Regions from separate parts of the Homo sapiens genome. Here region 2 is linked to region 1. Evidence: fine-mapped expression QTL. Tissue or cell type: whole blood. Region 1 holds a variant in brackets; the other region holds the start of a gene. All regions are shown on one strand. Distances are from middle to middle.

The links. PIP is the estimated chance that this variant, and not a neighbour inherited with it, causes the effect.
Region 2: FCHSD1 starts here. The variant in region 1 is fine-mapped to the expression of FCHSD1 in whole blood (INTERVAL, PIP above 0.99).

The regions. Positions count from the first base shown.
Region 1 is chr5:141,676,044-141,691,615 of GRCh38, forward strand. ARAP3 (ArfGAP with RhoGAP domain, ankyrin repeat and PH domain 3) reads right to left here and starts at 6,187. Exons shown (of 33, transcript NM_022481.6): 1 at 6,130-6,187; 2 at 3,920-4,460; 3 at 3,718-3,779; 4 at 3,502-3,613. The coding sequence starts at 4,443. RefSeq lists a silencer at 6,187-6,236. The variant C/G (reference allele first, on the strand shown) is at 3,548.
Region 2 is chr5:141,646,883-141,656,150 of GRCh38, forward strand. It overlaps FCHSD1 (FCH and double SH3 domains 1), which reads right to left and starts at 4,536. Exons shown (of 20, transcript NM_033449.3): 1 at 4,466-4,536; 2 at 4,138-4,235; 3 at 3,477-3,522; 4 at 3,005-3,072; 5 at 2,513-2,654; 6 at 2,290-2,426; 7 at 2,075-2,138; 8 at 1,086-1,214; 9 at 516-638; 10 at 253-348. The coding sequence starts at 4,486. It overlaps ARAP3 (ArfGAP with RhoGAP domain, ankyrin repeat and PH domain 3), which reads right to left. Exons shown (of 33, transcript NM_022481.6): 29 at 9,182-9,217; 30 at 8,987-9,050; 31 at 8,739-8,876; 32 at 8,480-8,518; 33 at 6,520-7,553. The coding sequence ends at 7,068. RefSeq lists an enhancer at 2,558-3,136.

The sequences.
Region 1 (15,572 bases):
TATATAACATTGCATCCAATAAAAAACTCTTGTTGGACAGGTACGGTGGCTCACGCCTGTAATCCCAGCACTTTGGCAGGCGGATCACGAGGTCAAGAGGTCGAGACCATCCTGGCCAACATGGTGAAACCCCGTCTCTACTAAAAGTACAAAAATTAGCTGGGTGTGGTGAAGCGCACCTGTGGTCCCAGCTACTTGGGAGGCTGAGGCAGGAGAATCACTTGAACCCAGGAGGCAGAGGTTGCAATGAGCCGAGATCACACCACTGCACTCCAGCTTGGGTGACAGAGCAAGACTCCGTCTCAAAAACAACAAAAAAACTCTTTTCTTGACTCAGCTTCCTCTAGCAACAATAGTTCCAACTCTCTGCTCTTCTTTGCAGAAAAATTCCTCAAAAGACACTGTCTGTACTTTTCTATTCTCCCTTAAAACCCACTCTCATCGAGCTTTCACCCCATCACTCTGAGACTGTACTTGTCAAGATCCCCAGTGACCTCCAATTCCAAGGGTGAATTCTAAGTCCTATCATACTCAGCAGCAGACCCCTCAGCAGCGTAGGACACAGCTGGCCTCTCCCTTCTTCTTCTACATTTTCCTCACTTTGCTCCTATGACATCACATTCTCCTGGCCTTCTACTTTGCTATTTCTCTTCTGTCCGTTTTGCAGATTCTTCCGCTTCTCCCAAACCTCTAGATATGGGAGTGCACAAGGGCTTTGATCTTGGTCCTCTTCTCTATCTGCACTCACTCACAGCTCTATGCACCCATCTAAGTGCTGACAACTCTCAAGTTTAGGTCTCCAGCTCCGACCTCTCTCTAGACTCTAAGCTCGTCTACCCAGTGGTCTATTTTCACCTCTTCTTGGAGGCATAACTTACACCTCAAATTCAACACATCCAGAACTGCACTCCTAATCTACCCTCTCCTCCCAGCTGCCTGAACACAGTCTTCCCCATCTCAGACCGTGGCGGCTCCAGGAACTTTCAGGTGCTCAGGACAGTGCTATCCAGCAGAAGTTAATGCGAACCAAGTATGTAATTTTAAACTTTTCAGTAGCCACGTTTAAAAAAATTAAAAGAAACAGGTGAAATTAATTTTAATAATATATTTTATTTAACCCAATATATCCTAAACATTAACATTTTAGTATGTAATCAACATAAAAATTACTATTTTTTACTACATAAAAATTCTGTAATCAACATAAAAATATAAACATAAGATAATTTATGTTTATATTTGTTATATTCATCCAGTATTGCTTTTTCTCATATTAAGTCTTTGAAATCTAGCAGGTGTTTTACATTTATTGTGCATCTCAAAGGATACTAGCCGCATTTCATAGGCCCAGTAGTCACATGTGGCTAATGGCTACCATACTGGTCAGCACCAGCTCAGATGGAAGCCCTCAAAGTCATTCTTGACTGCTCTTTTTTTCTCACATCCCAAGTTAATCTGACAGTTTGCCTTCAAAATAAAGCCACTTCTCATCATCTCCACTACTATCACTACACTCTGAGGTCTCTCACCTACATTACTACAAAAACCTCCCCACTGGTCTCTCTGCTTCTCCTTTGGCCCCCTACAGACCACTCCCAACATAGCAACCAGGGGGATCCCTTTATAAAGTCAAAACCCCTCAATGGCTTCCCATTTCACTTAGAGTAAAAGCCAAAGTCCCTTATCTGGCCCCTTGTTTTTGTTTTTTTGGTTTTGTTTTGTTTTTTGTTTTTGTTTTTTTTGTTTTTGTTTTTGTTTTGAGACAGGGTCTCACTCGGTTGTCCAGGATGGAGGGCAGTGGCATGATCTTGACTTGCTGCAACCTCCGCCTCCCGGGTTCAAGTGATTCTCCTGCCTCAGCCTCCCTAGTAGCTGGGACTACAGGTGTGCGCCACCACCCCCAGCTATTTTTTTTTTTTTTTGAGACGGAGTCCTGCTTTGTTGCCCAGGCTGGAGTGCAGCGGCACAACCTTTGCTCACTGCAAGCTCCGCCTCCCGGGTTCACGCCATTCTCTGCCTCAGCCTCCTGAGTAGCTGGGACTACAGGCGCCCACCACCACGCCCGGCTATATTTTTTTTGTATTTTTAGTAGACACGAGGTTTCACCATGTTGACTAGGCTGCTCTCAAACTCCTGAACTCAGGTGGTCCGCCAACCTTGGCCTCCCAAAGTGCTGGGATTACAGGCATGAGCCACTGTGCCTGACCCTTATCTGGCCTCTTTTACCTCTCTGACTTCATCTCCTGCCATTCCTCCCACCGTGGCTCACCTGCCCCAGCCAAGATGGCCTGGCCTCCTCACTGCTCCTGGATCCCTTTGGGCACACACCCGCCTTGAGGCCTCTGTTCCAATCACTTGCCCTACCGGGGCACTCTTCCCCAGTTATCTTCATGGCTAACTCCTTCACCTCCTTCAAGTTTTTGATCAAATGTCATCTTCTTAACGCTCCGCTAACTGTAAATGAAAAATTGCAGTCCACCCATTTTGCCCCCAAGCCCTCTTTTTTTTTTTCTTAGTCACTGCTACCTCCACCTCTCCGGTTCAAGCAATTCTCCTTCCTCAGCCTCCTAACTAGCTGGGATTATAGGCGTCCACCACCGCACCTGGCTAATTTTTGTATTTTTAGTAGAGACGGAGTTTCATCCTGTTGGCCAGGCTGGTCTCAAACTCCTGACCTCAGGTGATCCGTCTGCCTCAGCCTCCCAAAGTGCTGGGATTACAGGTGTGAGCCACCATGCCCGGCCAACCCCCCAGCCCTCTTACTCTGCTCTATTTTTTCCATGGCACTTAATACCTTTTAACGTTCTATAGTATTTAATGTATTATGTTTATTGTTAATAGACTATCTCCCCACAAGGGCAGGGATTTCTGTGTACGCTGATCTATCCCAAGCATCTACATCCGGTGCATGATAGTTGCTCAATAAATATTTGTTGAATGAAAAAATGAAAAGCACTTCTCCTGGTTGGGCACAGTGGCTCATGCCTGTAATCCCAGCACTTTGGGAGGCCAAGGAGGTAGGATCACCTGAGGTCAGGAGTTCGAGACCAGCCTGGCCAACATGGCGAAACCCCATCTCTACTAAAAATATAAAAATTAGCCGGGCATGGTGGCACGCACCTGTAATCCCAGCTACTCGGGAGCCTGAGACAGGAGAATCGCTTGAACCCAGGAGGGGGAGGTTGCAGTGAGCCGAGATTGTGCCACTGCACTCCAATCTGGGCAACAAGGCAAGACTCCGTCTCAAAAAGAAAGAAAGAAAGAAAAGCACTTCTCCCAATTTTCCATTATATGACCATTGGTTTGTCTACTTGTTTTATTCCCTGTCTGTCCCACTGAGTCACAAGCTGCCTGAGGGTGGCACTAGGTCTGTGATACTCATCCTGTATCTTGAGTGCCTGGCTGGTGAATACTCAATGCACATTTGTTGAATAACTGGATACATGGCCGCCACCGACTCACCTGCTCCTCCCTCCCACCACTTCCCTATTTAGTACTCACCTGTGTTCAGCCCTGCCCTGACAAACACCTCTGCTCTCTCTTCTGT[C/G]GGGGGCTCCTGGAGTCCCCACAGGTTGGACACCATAGTACAGGCAACCAGGATCCATGATGTGCACTGGCAGGAGGAGAGGGGAACGCACAAGGAAGAGGAGATCGCTGGGAGTGTATGAGGTCCTGCCGGCACTATCCCTCTCCCCCAACCCGTGATAACCCAGTTACCTGTGCCTGTTGTGGGCCTGAGGGCAGGGGTGGGGGCAGAGATTTGGGAGCTGTCTGGGGCCCTGAAGGGAAAGGTCTATTGGTTACTTAAGGAGAGAGGAGGAAGAACAAGCCTTCATGCCCTGCTCCCCGCCTCCGTCCCCCTCATGCTCTCCTCCCCACTCCTCCCAGCATCAGTCCCTAGGGAGCCAACTCCACTCACTTGTCCTGAGCTGCCTGTGCCCTGCCTCTTGAGTCCAGGCCGAAGTAGATGGAATTAGGCATCATCTCCACAGTATTTAGGGCTGAAGACTGCTCAGAGGAGGAAGTGGGGAGAGGAGGAGGCCTTGGGCTGGGCTCTGGGCTCCTGGACACTCCTGGTCCCCCGAGGGCTGGGCTCAGCCCAGGTCTCTGAGTGGTGGCAGGGCCACTGAGTCCACCAAACACGGTCCTGGGCTTCGGCACGGGCTTAGGGGGCTGGGCTTGCGGGGCTGGGCTGGGGGATGGTTCCATGGCACTATCTGATTTGGGATCCAGGGAGCCCTCTTCGGTGCCTGTCTGTAGCAGGCGTAGAATGCGTTTCCGGTGCCCTGTGGCGCTGATGCCCAACTGCTTCAACTCCTCGTGGCCCAGGCCCCGGGCTGCACCTGCTGTAGCCAGGCCATGCCGTCGGAACGTGTCTGCATACTGCTCCAGGTGCACCGTGGCCAGCCACACAGCGATGTCCAGGTCCTGAGGGGCAGCCATGGGGGCTCAGGCCATTGCTGGGGGGAGGGGCAGGGTGAAGGGAGGGCTCAGGCTGAGAATCCCCCTCTCTGCCCCAGAGTCTGAGGCCTGGACAGTGAGCACCAGCCTCCAATCTTCCTCCAAAGAAAGATGCTGAAAGGCCTGCGATCTGGAAGCAGAGCCATCCCAGAACAACAGCAATGGCTCTCTACTTAGGGAAGGGACTTCATTTGAAGTTAAGGAAACTGAGGCCCAGAGAGGGGAAGGGGCTTGCCCCAGGTTCACAGTAAGTCAGTGCTAGAGTTGGCCCCTCAGTTCCTGCCCACCCTGGGTCTGGGTCAAAGCTCTGCTCCTGCCTGACTGCACATCCAACTGAGTAAGCATGGGACAAGATGCTAGAATGCTGTGGGTCAGAGTGGGATAGGGAGATGCAGAGGAGGGGCCAATGATGTGGCCAATCAGCTCTGGAGTAAGGTAGGGAGAGGGGCAGCCTAGATAGGAGGAAGGAGGTGCAGACGCCCCCTCCCTCTTGTTTCCAGAGCCGATGTATGCAGGCCTGCCGTCCTAATCCTGGTTGTTCCCAGTCCCTCCTCCCCTTCCACCTATTGTCTCTGCTCAGACTTCCTTCCTGTCCCTCCAGCCCTGGCCGCCTCCACATCCTGCCTGCTTTGGTCAGGCTGCCGGGAGAGCCCTAACCAGTCCTAATGTGTGGGGTCCCGGCCCTGGGTGGAGGCTAATTGAAGAATAAGGATGGGGATGCCAGAGAGATGAGGCCTGACCTCTGGTCAGGGGTACTCCAGAGGCTTCTGGACTCTCTGCCCACCGGCAGCATGTTCACATGCTGTTCACCTGTGTGTGCACATGCCCTGTAGCGATTTGGCAGTGTGAAATGCCATCCCCCCACCTCTGCTTTCTCCAAGCCTTCCTTTTCTGAGCTTGCCTTTTCCCTGCTCATTCCCTTGGGCTCAGGTCTCTGTGCTCTGTCCCCCTTCCACCAGCCTGACCCCGACCCTGACCCTGGTCTATTTCATAGACCTGTCTCTAATTCTGTGGCCCCTGAGTTTTATCTCTGCCTTGTCACTGTCCCTGCCCCATTCCATCTCAACCTCTCAATTCTTCTTTGTCCCTCTCCTTGTCCCACCCTGTTTTGCTCTCTGTTATTAAGCTTGTCCTTGACTCAGTCTACAATTCTAACCAGATCTTGAGTTGTATCTGTGTCTCTGTCTGCCTCTGAGCCTGGGTTTCTGTCTTCCGCCTCGGCCTAGGCTCTCTCCCTGTTACTCTTGTGCTCTGTCGGTGACCAGGACGCCCTCTCCGTCCCAGCATCACTGCTGGCCTCCCTCTGCCTCTCTCCAGCTGGGCCTCATTCCCAAGCCAGGGCCCGCGTGCTGAGCCTCGGGCCCTGACTCAGGGCCCGGTTTCCCGGTGACTCAGGCCGGGCTCGACAGCACGGGGCTGGGAGCTGAGGTGCTCGCGGGACAGGAGTGGCGGGGGCGGGGCGGGCAGTGGCGGGCAGCGCAGGCTGCGACGAGGGAGGGGGCGAGGAGGGATGGGGCAGAGGCCGGGCAGCAGGAGGGAGGGGCGGGTCGTGGCAGGGATGGGGAGGGCCGCCGGCGCCGAGGGGGCCTGGGAGCCCACGAAGGCCCTCGAGAAGGTGATGGGGAGGAGTCTGGGAAGCAGGGACCCGGGGGGCGCGGGGGTCCTCACCTCACTACGCGGCCGCCGTCCGCTCGCGGGTGCCCGCCGCTCGTCCGAGGTTCTGGGTCCCGCCGCGCCGGCCCCGCCTCCCCTCTGCCCTCCCTCGACGGGCCCAGCCCCGCCCCGCCCGGCCGGTTCCCTCCGCGGGGCCCCGGCCACTCCTTGTGCAAGCGCAGGCCTCCAAAGGGTTTGGGCTTCTTGCCCAACCGCCGCGCTTATCTCCGAGTCTGCCCCCAGTCTGCCCTCTCGCAGGCCGAGAAAGGACCAGAACACGTTGGGACGAAGACAACCTCAGGGAGAGGGACAAAGAGGCAGAGACCGGGACGGAGACTGGGACGGAGGTAGAAACTGAGAAAGGGAGAGTGCCAGGGACGGCTTTGCATCCTCTCCGCTGCTCCCATGCCCTCCAGTCCTGCCAAAAGGGAGGAGGAAAGGTCGAGCCCTAATCCCCCAGGGCACCTCTCCCACGCCCGGAAGGGTGGCTGGACCCTGGCAACCAGTTTAGTGTGGGGACGGAAGCTGGACATCCAGAATTGAGACTTGGCCTGGGCAACAAGCGCAGAGGCCCAGCAGAGGGGTACCCGTCTGTTTCTCCCCACTTCCATCCCCAAGGGCCCGGCCTAGGTTCCTTCGAGGGATGAAGGTCCGCAAGGCACATCCCTACTTCCAAACCAAGGTTTGGGGCTGCCTTTTTGGGACAGGCGGACGCCCTGCAAGCTCAGTGACCAAGCAAGCAGCTGTTTCATTCATGGGAGAAGCCGCCCCTTCTCCCCAACTCCCACCCTAAAATTTCAGGGGGGATGCCGGGGAGGCCTGAAGAGGAATGGCCCTTCTCTCCTTCGCTAATCTTGCCGGAACCCCGGTCCTGGAGCCTGTCTCCCAGGGGCGGAGGCACTTCCCTCTCTGAGCAGGACCAGTGTTTGGGTGTGGGGGGGGGGTGTTTGTGTGTGTGTGTGTGTGTGTGTGTGTGTGTGTGTGTGTGTGTGTGTGTGTGTATGTGTTGGGGGTGGCGGGGGCGCTGGCCGGCTGTGTTTTCCTGTTTGTATGAGAGGAAGTTGGCTGTGAGTCAGCAGACACAGGAACTGTCAGTAGCTAGGGGAAGACCCCTGCCTCAGGGGAAGAAGAGGGGAGTGGGAGGAAGTGGTTCCCACCTCTTCCAGCTGCCTCAGCTAGGGGAGGGACTGTCATCTTCAACCTACTGGAGCCCCACTTTCCCGGCCTTCCCTTTGAGAAAGAGAATTATAGTAATAAAATAATAATTGCAATAGCCATAATAAGGGCTACCAATTATTGAGAGCTGACCGTGCTCCAGGATCTATGTAAACATTGCTTTGCAAACTTTAATCCTCACAAATATCCCTACAAATAGGAAATTTTATCACCTCTATTTTACATATAAGGAGACAGGGAGCATTAAATAACTTGCTCAAGACTCTGCAGCTAGAAAATAGCCAACCCTCCAAGTCTATATCTATAACTACCATGCTCACCTACCACCCTGGACAGGACCCCTGCACCATGTCCTTTTTTTCAGATGGGCAACTGTGGTGGCAGTGAGAATGCTCCTCACAGATCTTACACTGTGAGGAGTGAAATTAACCAATGGCCCCAGCTGCTTCTCTCTGAAATCTAAGGCCAGCTTCCCACTGGGCTGCTCCCAGCCAGTGACAGAGCTCAGCAGAGATCTAAGGCAGACCCATTCCTGGGAGATAGGGGACTCCTTTGACAGCTGACTTTGGATCAAGATTTCCCAATGGCTTTGCTGAACTTTCCTTTGACTGGTGTTTTAGGATGCTCCTCTCAACCTTTATTCCTTCCCTCTCTCCTTCACAGCTCTCCTAGCTCCAGGCTCCCTTCCTCTCTCACAGGCATCTCCCCTAGTCAAATCCTTGCATTCTGCCTTGGCAGCTTCTTCTTTAAGGACTCAGACTAACCCAGCAAAATAAGGGAGCAGGAAAAGACAGTAAAGGGCACAGGGAGTTTTGAGGAATGGATGCCGGGGAGTTTGGGTCAGGGGCTAGATGCAAGAGTTCTGAACCTTTTTGTGCCATGTTCTCCTTTGGCAATACGGTAAAGTATGTGGTCTCATCTCAGAATAATATTTTAAAATGCATAAAATAAAATATATAGGATTGCAAAGGAAACCAATTATGTTGTAATACACATATAAAACCGATGTGATATAGTAATATATGTGCTTCTTTATTAATGCTTTAAATAAGATCTAGTGGTAGGTTGATACCTCACATAACTTTGATGCAGTGATGAGCATAAATGGTATTTCAAAAGATCTGCAATATTGTAATATGATATAAAAATATATGTGATTTCTACTGGTGACAAAGCCATAGTTATGGCTAAAATGACTGGTTTGTTGCTATTGTCATAATTGGAGGAAATGTTAAATTTCAGCTAGAGATTAGTGAAAGTAATATTCTTTTCCCATCCAAGTCCACTGACTCCAAGTTAAGGACACCAATGCCAGATGATGGGGCAGAGCCACAGAGAGGGAGACCTGGCTTCCTCCCTCAGACCCCACTTCCCTTCTTTGGCTCAATGATATGGGGCAGGTGGAGGCTTCTGGCCCCTGGCTTGTGTCTTCCTGAGTTCAAGCAATTCTCGTGCCTCAGCCTTGTGCCTCAGCCTCCCGAGTAGCTGGGATTACAGGTGCCTGCCACTACACCCAGCTAATTTTTGTATTTTAGTAGAGACAGGGTTTCACCATGTTGGCCAGGCTGGTCTCAAACTCCTGTCAGGTGATCCATCCACCTCAGCCTCCCAAAGTGCTGGGATTACAGGCGTGAGCCACCATGCCCGGCCGAAATTAGTAAATCTTAAATCTTAATCTTAACACATAGGACAAAAGGGACACTAGTGAGCAGAGGAAGAGGAAGAATGAAGCAATGAGGAGATGTGGAAGGGAATTCTTCAATAGCCCCTTCCATGTCTCGATTTGTTCCCCACTCAAATGATAGACTATTAAGCCACAATCACTTTGGAGGCCACTTTGTTCACCAAAAGTGGATGGTATGCAGTAATTAAGAACAAGGTCTCTCGGCTAGGCACTGTGGCTCACACCTGTAATCCCAGCATTTTGGGAGGCCAAGGCAGGAGGATTGTTTGAGAGCAGGAGTTTGAGGCCAGCCTGGGCAACATAGCAAGACCTCGTCTCTACTAAAAATTTTAAAATTAGCCAAGTGTGGTAGTGTGCACCTGTAGTCCCAGCTACTCAGGAGGTGGAGGTGGGAGGATTGCTTGAGCCAGGAGGTGGAGATTGCAGTGAGCCGAGATCGTACCACTGCACTCCAGCTTGGGTGACAGTGAGGCCTGTCTCTAAAAACAAAACAAAACACCACCACCAACAACAACAAAAACTAAAACAAAAGGTCAACAAAAAAACAGTCTCTAAAATAAAGCCCTGATGCCACCTCTACCAGCTGTGACCTGAGCAGATTATTCATCTCTATTTTGCCCTGTGTGCCTCAGTTTCCTTTTCTGAAAAAAGGAGAGAGAATAGTGCCTGACAGGGTTGTAAAGATTAATCTATGGAAATATATGGGTAATATGTGGAAAGGACCTGACATTCAATGAGTGCTCAAAGTGTTTCCTGTTCCTTGTTCCTATTTTTGCCAGTTACTTCCATGATAACTCTGGTATGCACCCAGCTTGCCTGTTTCTTCATCACTCTGGCATATCCCGTTACCTATTTTAATCAATCAGCCTGTGGCATCCTATTGCCAAATTAGACCACATTGTACCCCTTGTATTTTCCCCAGGGTCCCCAGTTGTCATCTTGTCTGTTCCATCACTTTTGTAACTCAATTTCCTGTCACCCCTGCAACTCCTGATCGCCTCCATGGTCTCCAGTGGCCTCCAGGTCACACTCCTTTCCTGCCCTTACCCTCTGGATGGTAAAAGGCACAGCCATCACCCACATTTGGTCCTGATGAGATGGGACAGGGCCTAGGGGGATGCCAAGGTGCAAGTTTCTTTTTATTTATTTATTTTTTTGAGACAGAGTCTCCCTCTGTCGCCCAGGTTGGAGTGGAGTGGTGCGATCTCGTATGACTGTAGACTCCGCCTCCCAGATTCAAGCGATTCTCCTGCCTCAGCCTCCCTAGTAGCTGGGATTACAGGCGCCCACCACCACATCCGGCTAATTTTTGTGGTTTTTTTTAGTAGAGACGCAGTTTCACCATGTTGGCGGGGCTGGTCTTGAACTCCTGACCTCAGGTGATCCGCCTGCCTTGGCCTCCCAAAGTGCTGGGATTACAGGCGTGAGCCACTGCGCCCGGCCGAGCATGTTTCTTACAGGAAGGAAGACTCCCATTCAATCCTTTCATTTATTTCTCATGTTTTTATTAATCATCTTTTCTGGACCAACCACTGCTCAAGGGTTTAGAGATGCAATGACGTGCTCAGCAGACTTTAGGGAACATGACCTGCTCAAGAAGTGAGACATTTATCAAACAACCCCCAAATAAATGTGTAATTACAAACCAAGATGAATTTTCTGAAGGGAAGCACTGTAAGAGCATATAACAGAGGCAGCTGACCTGGCCTGGGGGTCTGGGAGGCTTCTGCAGGGAGCTCTGCTTAAGTTGAGATCTCAGAAAGATGGGTAGGAGTTAAGCGGGATGGGAGGGAGTGTTCTAGGCAGAAGAACCACGAGTGCAAAGGCCCTGAGGTAGGAGTCAGCCTGGTGAGGAAGGGAGACAGATCAAAGAGACAGGGAGTTTGGGACCAGCTGAGACTGAAAGGATCTCAGGGGCCAGGCCATGCAGGCCCTTGGAGGGCTTGTATGAGATTTGGTCTCCATGCCAGGAGCCATGGGGAGCCAGGGAAGAGTTTAAGCATGGGGCAATAGACTCATGAATTTAGGTTTGAATTTTAGGAAGATGGCTGCATGGAGACTGGTTAGGGTCAGCACAGCCCTCCCTACCCCTAATTCCTCTGGCCTGAGGGCTGTGCCATTTCCCCCTAGACTCCAGAGCTACCCTCCAGGGAGCCCCTTCCCACTTCCCTCCTCACATTTTTGTGAGGATGAAGTCATCATTGAGGAGAGGAGGGAGTTCCAGGCCTCTACGCCTTCTTTATCCTGGAGAACTGGGGCAGCCCTGGGGTCAGGGGGAGGGAAGGAACAAACACAGAACACCTCCCTTCCCCTGCATCCTCATTCCCATGACTGGGCCCTGTCTCCTTCCACCCTAGGCTATTGACATGAGCTGTATTTACAAGATTTTTAATGCAATTTTACTGCAAAATGTTTTATAAAGGGTATCTAGTACTACAGCTAGTACTAACTCCCCTTAGGGCTTGGGGCAAGTCATCTCTCTTTGGGTCTCAGTTTCTCTATACATAAAATTAATGGCAGTGCTGTTTGATAGAATTTCCTGCAATGATGGACCGTGTTCTCTATTTGTGCTGTCCAGTATGGCAGCCGGTAGCCACATGTGGCCATTGAGAGGTTGAAATGAGGTTGGTGAGCCAGAAGAGCTGAATATTTAATTTAATTTAATTGTAATTAATTTAAATTTAAACAACCACTGGCTGCCAATATTGGACAGCACAGGCAAATCTTAAACTTTTTTGAGACTCTGGTGACAGTTATGGATCTCTCCCTAGAAAAACACCCTGCACCCAACTCTCAAAGACGAGGGCCCTTCCAATCCTATTTATGCATCCCAGGCAAAGCAGACTGTAGACTGCTGGGGCTCAGGTCCCTCATCTCCTCTTCCCTTCCTGCTGCCTTGAAAATGCTGAAATAGGGCTTTGCCTAGAGGCAGGAGAATGACAAGGATGACTCCAGGAATTAGCAGACCTTTGTTTAAAGCTTCTGGTGCACCACTGCACACATCTAAAGAAAGACAGAAGAGTGAAAGCAGGGGTAGGTGCAAGGAGAGTATTAGGGATATTTGGACATGCTCAGTCTCTGCCCTACCTCCCTGCAAACCACCAAATTGCTGCTGGGCCAGTCCTTTTTTGGACACAAAACTCCATCGGAGTGTGAGGCTGTACTCCAGATATGGGGTTGTGCCCTGGGCATGCAGTATTTATGAACTGGGGCTTTGGGAGTGACCAGAGGGGGTGGGGGGGGGGGCTATCTTAGTCCATTTGCATTGCTGTAACAAAATACCGGATACTGGGTTATTTATTTATTTATTTTTTATTTATTTACTTTTTGAGACAGTCTCACTCTGTCGTCCAGGCCGGAGTGCAGTGGCACTATCTGAGTTCATTGCAACCTCCGCTTCCCAGGTTCAAGTGATTTTCCTGCCTCAGCCTCCCAAGTAGTTGGGATTATAGGCATGTGCCACCATGTTTTGCTAATTTTGTGTTTTTAGTAAGGACGGGGTTTCACCATGTTGGCCAGGCTGGCCTCGAACTCGTGACCTCCGCCAAAGTGCTGGGATTACAGGTGTGAGCCACCGTGCCCAGCCAACCGTTTACTCACTCTTGATGTTTTCACTGTCCAGAGCATCTGTGGGTCAGACACTGCCCCCACCCAGGAATATGGAGCCCTGAAGGTGTCAGGAGAATGCACTCCCTGCCTTGCATGGATGCAGTTGTCTACTCCTTGGGAGAAAGATAATATTTTTCTCCCTTCTCACTTCTAGGATCTAATCACTCTCTCCCAGAAAACTCACTGCACAGACCCATTTACAGGGGGCAGTTTTCACTGGGACTTAACTTCCTACCCTCTGATCTCCCCACTCGATTTCTTGACCATGCCTGCCCCTCCCTCATTGCTCAGATGTCCATCTATACTTTCTCTCCCATCTGGAAAGTAGTTGCTTGGTTCCTGTCCCCCGGGGTCTCCATTTCTTTGGCTTCAGCAGAGATGCTGGACTGGTTAAACTCAGGCTCCAGTGGTGACCACAGTGTGGGACACAGACGGGGAAACAGCTTTCAGGAATCCCTTTGTCTTAGGTCTTTGAGAAGCAGAGCCTGTGGTCAGGATTCAGGTGGAAGCCCTGAGCTGAGGGAGAGGAAATGGAGGATGCAAGGTGAGACAGTGCGGTGCCTTCCTGTCCTGCCCTGCTTCACACAAGCCCCTCAGAGACACTGCTGGCTACTCAGCAGGGGTGCTCTCTCTCGGCACGTGGGTGGGACTTCTCCAGAAGGTAAGGAGGAAATCCACCTTGGAGCAGTCCTCAGCTCCCACCCATGACCTGTCTCCCATGGGTCAAGGTTCACCCCACAGAGTCACCTTCCCATGCTTCTGGGTTCTGTTACCCAGCCCTTGGTGGCACTTGGAAACCAGGTTCCACACTGTACAGTGTGGCATTTTATCTAAGTCTGAAAGTAGAGGAGGAGGTAGTGAAGGAATTTGAGAAGAAAGGTTCATGTCTCAGGGCAGCCCATTTCTCATGCCACTGAGATCCACTCAAGTCCTCCCATTATACCTGACTTCTATGCCACCCTACAGGGCATTTTCCCCCACAGGGACAAAGTTGCCCTCACTCTTTCCTCATGAGGGAAAGTACAGTCCACTGGAATCAAGTCCCCTTCCAGAAAATGCCAGATGTGGTCTTAAGGAAGATAAAGAGGAGAGGGCTAATGAAGCAAGCTACAGTCCCACTGCTGTAGCGTGTCTTGAGTCCATAATTGATATTCTCTCCCTCCTTCCGTGACCCTCCGCTAGCCCTCTGCAGATCTGGGCTACTTGCCTGATGAGATTATACAGACGTTCATCCCCAAGAGATCTGATGCCTTTGTTGCCCTGTCCTTTTAGAATTGTTGTTGAAGTTGTCCATTGGCAATTACTACCGGGTGGGAAGTTCCAAGAGATGCCACAGCGAATCCCCTGGCTGGGGCCAGACTCCCCGCCTTCATTGCATCTATGCACATTGTATCTACAGCCCTGGTTCCTCATGGCCATCAGGATCAATGGCCCTGGCCAGCACATTAATGCCCTTCTTTGTCTATTAGCCCACTAGAATGAGGAGCATAAGGTGGCCACGTGGCTGTCACAGCTTCCAGTTTAGTGGAAACTACTGTGTTCTTTCATATAAGTTCTCCCTTCCTGGCAACTAGAAACTCGAATTGGCAGAGCCACCAGTTTTGGGGACAGAAAGCAAATATTCTACAAATGTGAATGAGATGGGCCACGTCCACTTCCACATTTGACTCCAGGACTGGCAATTTCTATGTATAAGGAACATAGTACTGGTCAAAACAAATACCGCATCAAGGAGTTGAGGGCCCCAACCCACAGGTGTCATGTTCCTGCCAGTGTCTTCACTGAGCATTCAACAGGCTGTCCCCTTGTCCCATCAGGCTGGCAGCTTCTAGGTGATGAGGAGCAACCAAGCGAGCCCAATGACTCTGTTGATCGGCATCCCATACACCATATACAAAGATGAACTCAAAAATGGATCAAAGACCTAAATGTAAGAGCAGAAACTATAGAAGTCCTTGATGACCACATTATTGTACTTTTTTGGTAAAAACACTGTGGAAGACAAGCCTGAATCTGGAGCATGCACTGTTGCCAGTAAGAACGAATTACTGTCCCCTCCAGAGTAGAAAGAATAGGGTCAGTGTAACTGATCTGCAGCCAGAGGCTTGGCTGGTCTTCTGAGGAAGAGAGCCTTCTGAGGGAGGGCCCAGCACTGGTCTTGGCTGCAGGCAGGTTGAGTGATCAAAGTGGTAGAACTAGCTCATCCTTGGTGAGAGGGAGCCCATGCTGTTGGGCTCATACATAGCCTCCATCTCTGGTAGCATGACTACTCTGTTCAAGGGCTTTTGAGCAGGCATTCAGGGTAGACAGGGAGAGAGATTCACTCACCAGGCGAATCATTGTATCTCTGTGGAGCGTGTCCTGGCAAAAGATGCTCTGCTGGTTGTTTACCTGAGACCCAGAGGTTTGCACACTTGGTGCTCACTCTCAGTCCACCCATCTACCTCTTTCCTAGACCACTTTGTCACTTGCCTTTGGCTTTTGTTCCTTTGGGCTCCTGACTAGGGGACATTCACTATTCCACAGGAGCCAGGGAATTTGCACACTTGGTGCTCACTCTCAGTCCACCCATCTACCTCTTTCCTAGACCACTTTGTCACTTGCCTTTGGCTTTTGTTCCTTCGGGTTCCTGACTAGGGGACATTCACTATTCCACAGGAGCCAGGGAATATCCACAACTCAGGCTATTTGTTCGTTTAGAGAAAGCTAACGCCCAAGTGTACTGCTCAAAGCTTTGCACCCTGGAACCTCCCTTCCCCACTGTCCTTTAGGGCTACGCCAAGACGGCCATAATGTGGCAGCAATCCATTTCTAACTCTCACCAACATATCACACTGACCATCTGTGAACCAGGGCTGAGTCCCTTCCTCATCTAGCATTTGACCACAGGGAATTTGAGAAGGTTCTACAAAGTTTGTGACCCAATATGGCCCTTTCACTCCTATCTGCCTATGACTTCCTCTTTATTCCTGACTCATTGGGAAGTGGC
Region 2 (9,268 bases), 32 kb before region 1:
AGCTTCAGAAATGGGATCCAGGTCAAGGGACAGAGGTAGAATGAAAAGGATGGCGCAGTCAAGTGACTGAAAGGTGGACTGAGGTGTGTTTTTTTGTGTGTGTCCTGTTGGGAGGGAGGTGAGCTGGAGTTCTGAAACCCCCTCTCCACGGTGTACACTCACTAAGTTAACACAAAACAAAGATAATGGAGGAGGCCTAAATCATAATCGCCTTTATATGTGGCCTGGTTCCAACAAGCAGGAAGATCTCACCTGATCAGTCCCTGCTGGCTGAAACTGCTGAGGTGGGGTGGGGGAAAATACACCAGGCTCCTGAAGAAACAGCTTCAGGTCTTGCTCCCAGCTTACCTAGGGGTTGGGAAAAGTCAAAGTCACTCATTCACTGACTCACTCTCCAACCCTGTCCCTAGCACTTCTTGGAAGAAAAAGGACAATGTGTGAAGCAAAGAGGGCTGCATTGGGAGGGAAGGGTAAAAAGGATCCCCGGGGAAGCTCTTAGAGGCCACAGCCCTCACCTGGGAGGTTGTCTGCTCCCCGCGGTGGGCATGCTCCAGGATGACCTCTGCGGCTTCCAGCTCAGTGTGGCTCAGGGAGGTCAGGGGGTCCCTCAAGTGCTCTGACAGCTCACTGACCAGGGCCTAGAGAGAACCCCAAGATACTGACACCACCCTTCCCCCAGACCTCTACTGTAAAATAGGCTCGTTCCAGATTTGACAGGTGATGGGCATGAGGTATAGGAAGGAGAGAAGAAGACATTCTTCATGAGAAAGGCCCTCGTGTGCAGAGCACTTAGAAGTTTAAAACACGTTCACATCCATTCTCTCCTTTGAGCCCCACTAGTGCTATAAGATAGGCAGAGAAAGGGTTATCCCTGATGAGGAATCTGGGGTTCGGAAGAGTTTAAGTGTACTGTACAATGCCATGCAGCCAGCTAGGAGCAGAACCAGAGTGCATGTATGTATCATCTACTCACTCTAAACAGACAAGATCCCCTGCACCACCCACTGTCATGGGGATCAAGAAGCAGGGGGAGGTCCTCCTTTCCCTCCCTGCTGAGGGATAGGGGTGTCTGGGTTAAAACTGGCCTTGAGCAGAGCTGGCAGTTCCTCCTGGTAGTAATGGTCGAGGTGGGCATTGGTAGCCACCAAGTTAAGCAGGTACTCATTGCGGGCTGCTTGCAGCTGCTGGGAGTACTGGGCTGACTGGGCGGACAGCTAGGAGGGTAAACTGATGTCAATAGGAAGCCCTAGACCCCCAGAGTCCTTCCAAGACCAATTGAGAAGCCAGATCCAGAATGGATTCTCACATTATTGAGTGCTTACTATGTGCCTGGCACTACACTAAAAATGTTGCATACACACAACTCCTGCTCAAAATCTTCTAGTGCCTTCTGCACGCATTTAAAATAAAATCCACTGTTCCTTACCATGGTCCACCACGTTCAATATGAGCTGGCCCCCGCAATCTCTCTGACCTCTTTTCAAGCGCTTGTTCCCTTGCTCACAGTACTCCAGCCATACTGGCCCTCTCTCAGTTCCTCGAGCCTACAAAGTTATTCCCACCTCAGACCCTTTGCACTCACCATTTCTTCTCTCTGCAATGTTCTTCCCCTAGATCTTTGCAAGGCCAGCTCCTTCTTGACAGTTAGGCCACCTATTCAGAGAGGCCTCCCTCTAAATTCTACCCCCTTGTTATTCTTTATCATAGTACCTTGTTTTATTTTCATCTTAATCTAAGTATTTATTTGCTGTCTGTCTCTCTTAACCAGACTGTGAGGGCAGGAACTCCATTGGTAGTGTTCTCCACTGTATCCATAATGTCTAGAACAGTGCCTATTATATACAGATCCTCAATAAATGCATATTAAAGGACTGAAAAAGAAGGGTATTCTCTCCATTTTATAGAAGAAAATAAGGCTCACAGAGATCAAGTAAATTAACCAAGGTTACCCACCCAGGAAGTAGGAGAGCCTGGATTCAACCCAGTCTTTCATACATATGCACCTATGTTCCAAACCACTAGACTACTCTGCCTCCCTCTTCCCTGCCCCCACTCATGCCCTCATCCCTCGAACCTTGGTGCTCAGTTTCTGGAGACTGGTCCGAGAGTGGAAGATCCCATGGTCACTTCGGTTTAGCCTGTGCAGATGAGAGAAAGGAGTCAGGCCCACCCCAAGTGGGAGAATATGAGATCAGAGTCAGGCCCAGCTTTGGTGACTTGGCTCCACCCCTAGACAGCCCCACCTCCCTGTTCCCCAACCTTGGGCTTCCTCACTCTCCATGACCCCACCTGGCCTGGACATCAGCCGCCTTCTCCTGTGCCAAGGCCCACACACGTTCCCGCTGCCCATACAGCTTCCGACTTCGGCTCAGCTCCCGGACAGACTGCAGCACCTCAGCCTGCGCCCTCTGGAGGTTCTCTGTTCCCTATTGGGATGCATACACAAAGTCCTTACCTAGACCACCTTTGGTCCCAAGCCAGCTCTTCCTTCACCCCAACCTCTGAGCCATACCTTCCTAAGCACCTGCTCCTTGGCGCTCCGCCCTGTACCCCCTGCTAGGTCACGGTATCGGTCAGACGCCTGGAGTCGGGTTTGGCCCCCAGCCACGGTGGCATCCAGCAGGCAGCGCCAGGCACCGAACACTGTCCTGCCCCTCCCCAGAGAAGGTCTGTGTTGAGGAGGAGAGCACTCCACAGCTTCATGAGACCACCCCCACCCCCTGCCCCCTGACCAACACCATGGGAGACAGAGTGCTTTCCCATCCTCCCTTGTCTGGGAGCCCATCAATCGATCAGCCCATTAGCTCAGCCACAAGCCTCACTCCTGCCCTCCACCCCACCCACAGTGTCCTTGCTGGGTCAGCTCCTCTGCTGCTGCTGTGTCAGCTCTACCTACAGCTCACGTGCCTTCCCCACTTGCTAGGCCTTCATCCCCACAGGTTCCTGGGGCTGAGCTCCCCATCACTTTTTGGCCTCTGTGGCCCTCCCCCTCCATAGGGCCCACCTGCTGTCCATCTCACCGCTCCGGTGCCCTTCCCTCTTCAGGAATGGGCCAGCCAGTTTCTGGAGTGCCTGGTGAAAAAGCCATCACAGAACCAAGTTCCCTTTCAAAGACCCACCCCAACTGGCAGAATATGACATCAGAGTATAATCATACCATTCTTTGGGTACATTATGTGCCACTTGCTTTGCTAAATGCCTTATAGTCATTAATTTGTTTAATCCTTACAACAACCCTACATGAAGGTAAGGTATTATTATTATTCCCATTTCACAGAGAAAGAAACTGAGGTCAAGAAAGGTTAAGTAACTTGTCCAAGGTCACATGGCTATAATTACACAGCAGGGATCTGACACCAGTCTGCTTGACTCTAGGCATCTGCTCTTGACCACAATAGGGATAGGTATGGACAGACATTACTGGTGATATAAGAGAGGCTGGAACAAGAGGTAAGGTCCAGAGAAAAGTCCCATACCTGCCCATACTCCCGTTCAATGGCTGCCCTCTGCTTGCTGTAGGATCTGCGGAGATTGCAGGTCGGGGGTGAGGTGGGGGATAAGGTTATGTTTGGTCCTGTTCTCCCATCCTCAGTCCTCTACTCTGGGCAGGAGGGAGCGGTTGGGGGGAGCCAGGTTCCTAGAGTGTAACTACACCCAGAGGGAATGGGACTGATGGGAGTCCTTGAGATCACCTCGGGCAGCTGCAACACAGGAAACCCTCACCTTACTGCCCCGGGCCCCAGCAGGATCCTCCCCACCCCAGAGGTTCATCTGTAGGCTTAGAGGTGAAGACTGATGGGGGCCTGGGTACGATGTCTGCCAGCCTTCCAACAGGTCTGGAAGAGGGAGAGGGATTCTGCCCTAAGGTTGATTGTGGGGTTGGGGGCAGTGGTGTGGAGTCAAGGGCTTTGAGGGAGGGTTCCTGTGTGTTTATGTGGGTGGGAGGGGGTTGGGAGGGGTTAGGTGGGGGAGCATTCCTATCCAGTATCTGGAGAGGCCAGGCCTAGGGTGAGGGCTGTGGATGGGTCGGCTGGGGAGCTCTTGGCCCCTGTTCCTCCACCCCAGCACATGTATATTGGGGAGAAGTGGCGCACAACGACGAAGGTGAGTGTAAATGAAGGGGGTTGGGGGAGCTACCTGATGTCCTCCAGCAGATCCGCCTCCCTCTGCTGCCAGGTCTGAAGGATGCTCAGCTGTTCCAGGAAGCGAAGCTTCACCTCCTGGGCCGGCTTCACCTGTGGGGGCAAAGAGAGGATGAAGACCCCAGCGCAAGGACCTAAAAAACACTCCGCGCAGGGAGCGGTGAGGGGGCGGGGCCGGGGGGGTGCTGAGCTCTTTCCTCTGTTACTTCTGGTTTGGGGTCTGACCCCTTCCGACTTCCCGTCTCCTACCACAAGTCGGATGCCCCCTTAGCTCCCTCCGTTCCCCCAGCCCGCCAGGAGTCCCCATTCAGGGCCAAGCTCACTTTTCGGGGCGGCGGCTGCATCTCCGCTCCAGCAAGGCGGTCAGCCACTGGACTCCGGAACTGGAGGAAGCCCCGCCCACTATGGAGCCCCGCCCCAGGCCAGGTCAGGCCCCGCCCTCTGCCCGCCCACGACTTGTCCGGCGACGTCGCAGGGCGCGGAAGCGAGAGGGGGCCACCGAGAAACTAAACCTGTTACTGCTGCGAATACGCCGGCAGGGTCCGGGTGGCGGGGCGGGCGGGGCGGACGCAGCGTCCGCTGGGCGGTGGGAAGAACCCCAGGCATCTGAGTCAAGACGCCTAAGTTCTATTTGTAGTGTAACCACTGATTCAGCCTGTAATTATTGATAATTATTCATTTGCATATGTAGATCCCCAGTCCCCGAGCTAATGATGAGGAATGGAGAGGAATTCAGTGTGTGACCAGGGAAACTGAGTCACTGGGCACCTGAGCAAAGATGCATCTGACGAAGAGAGGGCTGGTCCCAGACCTTTTCCTAATTCCCGCTTAACTGGAAAAGCCAGCGTGAGCGGGGTGAGAAAGATGCCTGGATCCAGGAAGGAACCAGGCCCAAAGGGAAAAAGACTTGGCCCCACTGAAAACTAAACGATACCAGTGAGTCGGCGAGAGCTGGGAGATGCGCAGGAAGCCCCTGCCACCTTTAGGATCTTCCAGCCCTAGCACTGCTTCCTGAGGAGCCTCTCCCCAATTCCTCATCCTCCTCACCTAAGCTTCTTTGGCTCAGGCACCTGTCCCAGTACCCCTGACATGTCTCAAAACTCCAGATTCACATTCCAACTCCCCACTGACACCTCTGCTAGTATATCTAATAGGAACCTCAACTTTTAAAGCTTTTAAACCTCCTTCAACCTGATCCTCCCCCCGTAACGTTTTAAATGGCACCGCATTTCCTCCAGTCAGTTAAGTCAGAAACCCAGAGTCAATGTGCCTTCTCCTACCCCTACATTCTATCCATCAGTAAGTCCTACAGGTTCTATTTCAAACAACAATAAACAAACAAAAACCTCTTGATCCACTTCCCTCAATTTCCAAGACCACCATCCTAGTCCAAGCCCCCATTATTAGACTTCTGGTCTAATATCTGATCTCCTTGCTTCCACACTGCCCTCACCCCAACCCACTGTTCACACAGCACTCAGAGTGATCAACCTTTTTTTTCTTTTTTAAAGGGAAATAAGATCTCATAATTTACTTGCTTAAAATGCACTTGCTTCAGAATAAAATCCAAATAGAATCCATGGCCTTCAAGGCTACGCATGGAAGACCCTGCTGGTCTTTCTTACTTCAGCCTGTACTCTCCTCCCACTGTCTGCTCACTGTGCTCCAGCCTCTTTGCTGTTCCCTCAGTAGACCAAGTCCCTTCCAATGCAGAGTTCTTCATGCCTGCTTTCTTTCTCCAGAATCTCCTCCTTCCAGCGTTCCATCTGTCGCCTCCAACAGCTTCTTTCCCTTACTTTGCAACTCTTCACAGATGCCTTCCCCATCCACCCATCCAAAGACCATCTCCACAATCACTCTTTTTTTTTTGAGATGGAGTCTTGCTCTGTTGCCAGGCTGGAGTGCAATGGTGCAATCTCGGCTCACTGCAACCTCCACCTACCAGGTTCAAGTGATTCTTCTGCTTCAGCCTCCCGAGTAGCTGGGATTACAAGCACGTGCCACCACAACCAGCTAATTTTGTATTTTTAGTAGAGACAGGGTTTCACCATCTTTGCCAGGATGGTCTCAAACTCCTGACCTCAGGTAATCCATCCCCCTCAGCCTCCCAAAGTGCTGGGATTACAGGTGTGAGCCACTGCGCCTGGCCTCCACAATCACTCTTCAAGCTCATCACTTTGGTTCAGTTTCTTCACAGCACTAAACTCACTTGTTCAAGTACTGGTTTATGTGTTTATTTGCTATTTTCTGTTCCCCTCCACAACGGAGGATTCATAAGAGCAGGGGCCCTGTTTGTTTTGTTCATGCTATATCCCCAGACCTGGCACCAATTAGGTGCACAATACATATTTGTTGAATGAATGAATGAGAATGGTAGTCTTTTGGTTCCCAGGTTTATTGACAATTACTCATCTATTTTTGACTCCCCGAGTCCCAGCTCCCAAACTCGCTCTCCCTACTCCAGGCTTCACGGTAGTCCCAGAATGTAGGAAGTGGGACAGGATAGACTTTAACATCACCCAGGCCTCTGGTTTCCAAAGCATTTTTTTTCTTTAATGCAGTAAAACCATTCCTTTAAAACCCAAAATCTCTCATGGAACCCCTACGTATCAAATATATAAAGCAGGAGCTGCCCTTGTTCAGGGATAATATGTGGGGCTTATGGCTCTAAGAAACACAGTTTGACATTCACTGCTCTCCTTACTTCAGTTACCTCATGGTATAGATAAATGGGCTGGGCCCAGAGAGGGGCCATGACCTGTCCTGGGACACGCAGCCACTGAAGCCTTTAGTCCAGTGCTCCTTCCACAGCACCACACTGGATTCTGGAGTCTTTCCAGCCAGGGCAGAGGAAGCTGCAACAGTGCCACGATAAGAGTTTCTGGGTCTTCTGGTACCTACCCTCTCAGACTGCTGGTCCTAGGGTCATGTGAGGGGCTGGCTGGAGGGTGGACTGGAAGTGCATGGGGGTTGGGTGGGGAAGCCAGGTGTCTGTGTTGGAAGGCCAGTGGGGCTGGGGGATTGGGGGCTGGATGGCTGGGAAGGACTTCCCAGGCCTGCAGTGGTCTCTCCTTTCCTCAGGATGAGGCTGCTGAGCTCCTGGAGCAGCTGTTCCTCTAGGGACCCCCGTGCCTGGGGACTGCTCTTTGAAGGGGGGCCTGGAGGGGGCTCAGGTGGCCTCTCCTCCTGGCCAAGGGTGCTTGACTTGGAGAGAAAGGGTTGATCCAATGACTTCTGGCTGGTGAGGGGGTTCTCTGGCTTCACTGTCCACTCCCGTGTGGTGGAGAAGGAGGTAGAAGTGTCCTGGATCAACTCAGGGAAGGCCCCTACTTCCTCATACACTGGCTCCTCGTACACAGGCTCCTCCAGCTCCTCTTGCTCCTCCACAGACCCCTGGGATGACTTCATTGGCTGGATGGGAATGGAATGGCAGGAGTGGGCACATAGTTAAAGTTACCAGATTATGAATCACTAACATTTACTGAGCTCTTCCTCTGGGCCAGATGCTGTAAAATACTTGGCATGTATGATTCTGGAACAACCCTGTGCAGTGGGTTACACTGAGTCAACTGAATGCAAAGGGGTTAAGTAAGTTGCCCAGCATCACATAATGAGTGAATGGTAGAGCTGGGGTTTGAACCCAGGTCTGTCTAACTCCAAAATGCATTCACTTCATCACTTTCCTTCTATTTCACAGATTCTGTGACAACTTTTTCCTTTTTTTTTTTTTTTGAGACAGAGTTTTACTCTTGTTGCCTAGGCTGGAGTGCAGTGGTGCGATCTTGGCTCACTGCAACCTCCGCCTCCCAGGTTCAAGTGATTCTCCTGCCTCAGCCTCCCAAGTAGCTGGGATCACAGGCATGCACCACCACACCTAGCTAATTTTGTATTTTTAGTAGAGACGGGATTTCACCATGTCGATTAGACTGGTCTTGAACTCCTGACCTCAGGGGATCCACCCACCTCAGCCTCCCAAAGTGCTGGGATTACAGGCATGAGCCACTGTGCCCGACCTTTCTCCTTTTATTACTGCATCTTACATCCCTCATTTTCCTCATTCTTTCTGGCCTCCTCTCTCTCTCTGTCCTGTCCCTCTCCCTCTCCCTTTTCCTCGCTCTCCCTCTCTCTCTCTCACACACACACACACCCTGATGGCCTACACACACACACACACACACACACACACACACCCTGATGGCCTACACACACACACACACACACACACACACACACACCCCCTGATGGCCTACATGAGGAAAACAGCACACCCGGGGCTCAGGCAGCACAGAGGAATACAGGGTTGACAGGCACACCGCTGGAGCAGGCACAATACTCACAAAGAACATGGACAGGGTCCTCCGGTTGTGTAGTCGCCGCTGGACACAGGTGGGGTGGGGACAAGGGGAAGGAAAGACATAAAGACACAGTGAGGACTAGCAACAGGAGACAGGGGTGGGGAATGGGGGTGAAGAAGGCAGAAGGGAGGGGGACAGTGAGCATAGGGTGGCACCAGGCTAGCAGGCACACCACTGCCTACTGCAATGTGACAAGGGCTACACGACAGGAATCGGGTTGGGGCAGGGTGGGGTGCCTTACCAGGGTCTGATTGGCAGAGAGGAGGGTGGCTCCACTGTCATCCCCACGGATAGGCAGCAAAGGCATAGTGCCAAACTTCTGACGGGCAAGGTCAGAGGAGGAATGGCGTCGTAAGACCACTGGCTGCTGGTCATCGTGCTGGTGGGAGCGTGAGGGGTTGGCATCAGTGGGCATGAAAGGCACTGAGGAGGACAGCTGGGCCCCAGGGGGACCACAGACCCAGCCCTCAGCCTTTTCTTTCCCCTCACCTGGGCTTTAAGGATGCTGGTGGTCCAATCCCACATTTCATCCTCGTCAGTGCAGGACAAGTAGCTGGGGTGATCAGAATGGAATCAGAGGGAGAGAGAGGGTCACAGCTATAGGAATGGAGCATACAAAGAGGGAAGAGAAAAGACAGGGTGCAGAGGTGGGCCAGAGGAGAAGCCAGGGCAGGAGGTACTCACAGGTGCATCTTCTCTAGTATCAATGTGAAGCCCCACCTGGGAGACAAAGAACAGTGATGGGGCAGTCAGAAAGGGCAGGGGGGTGAA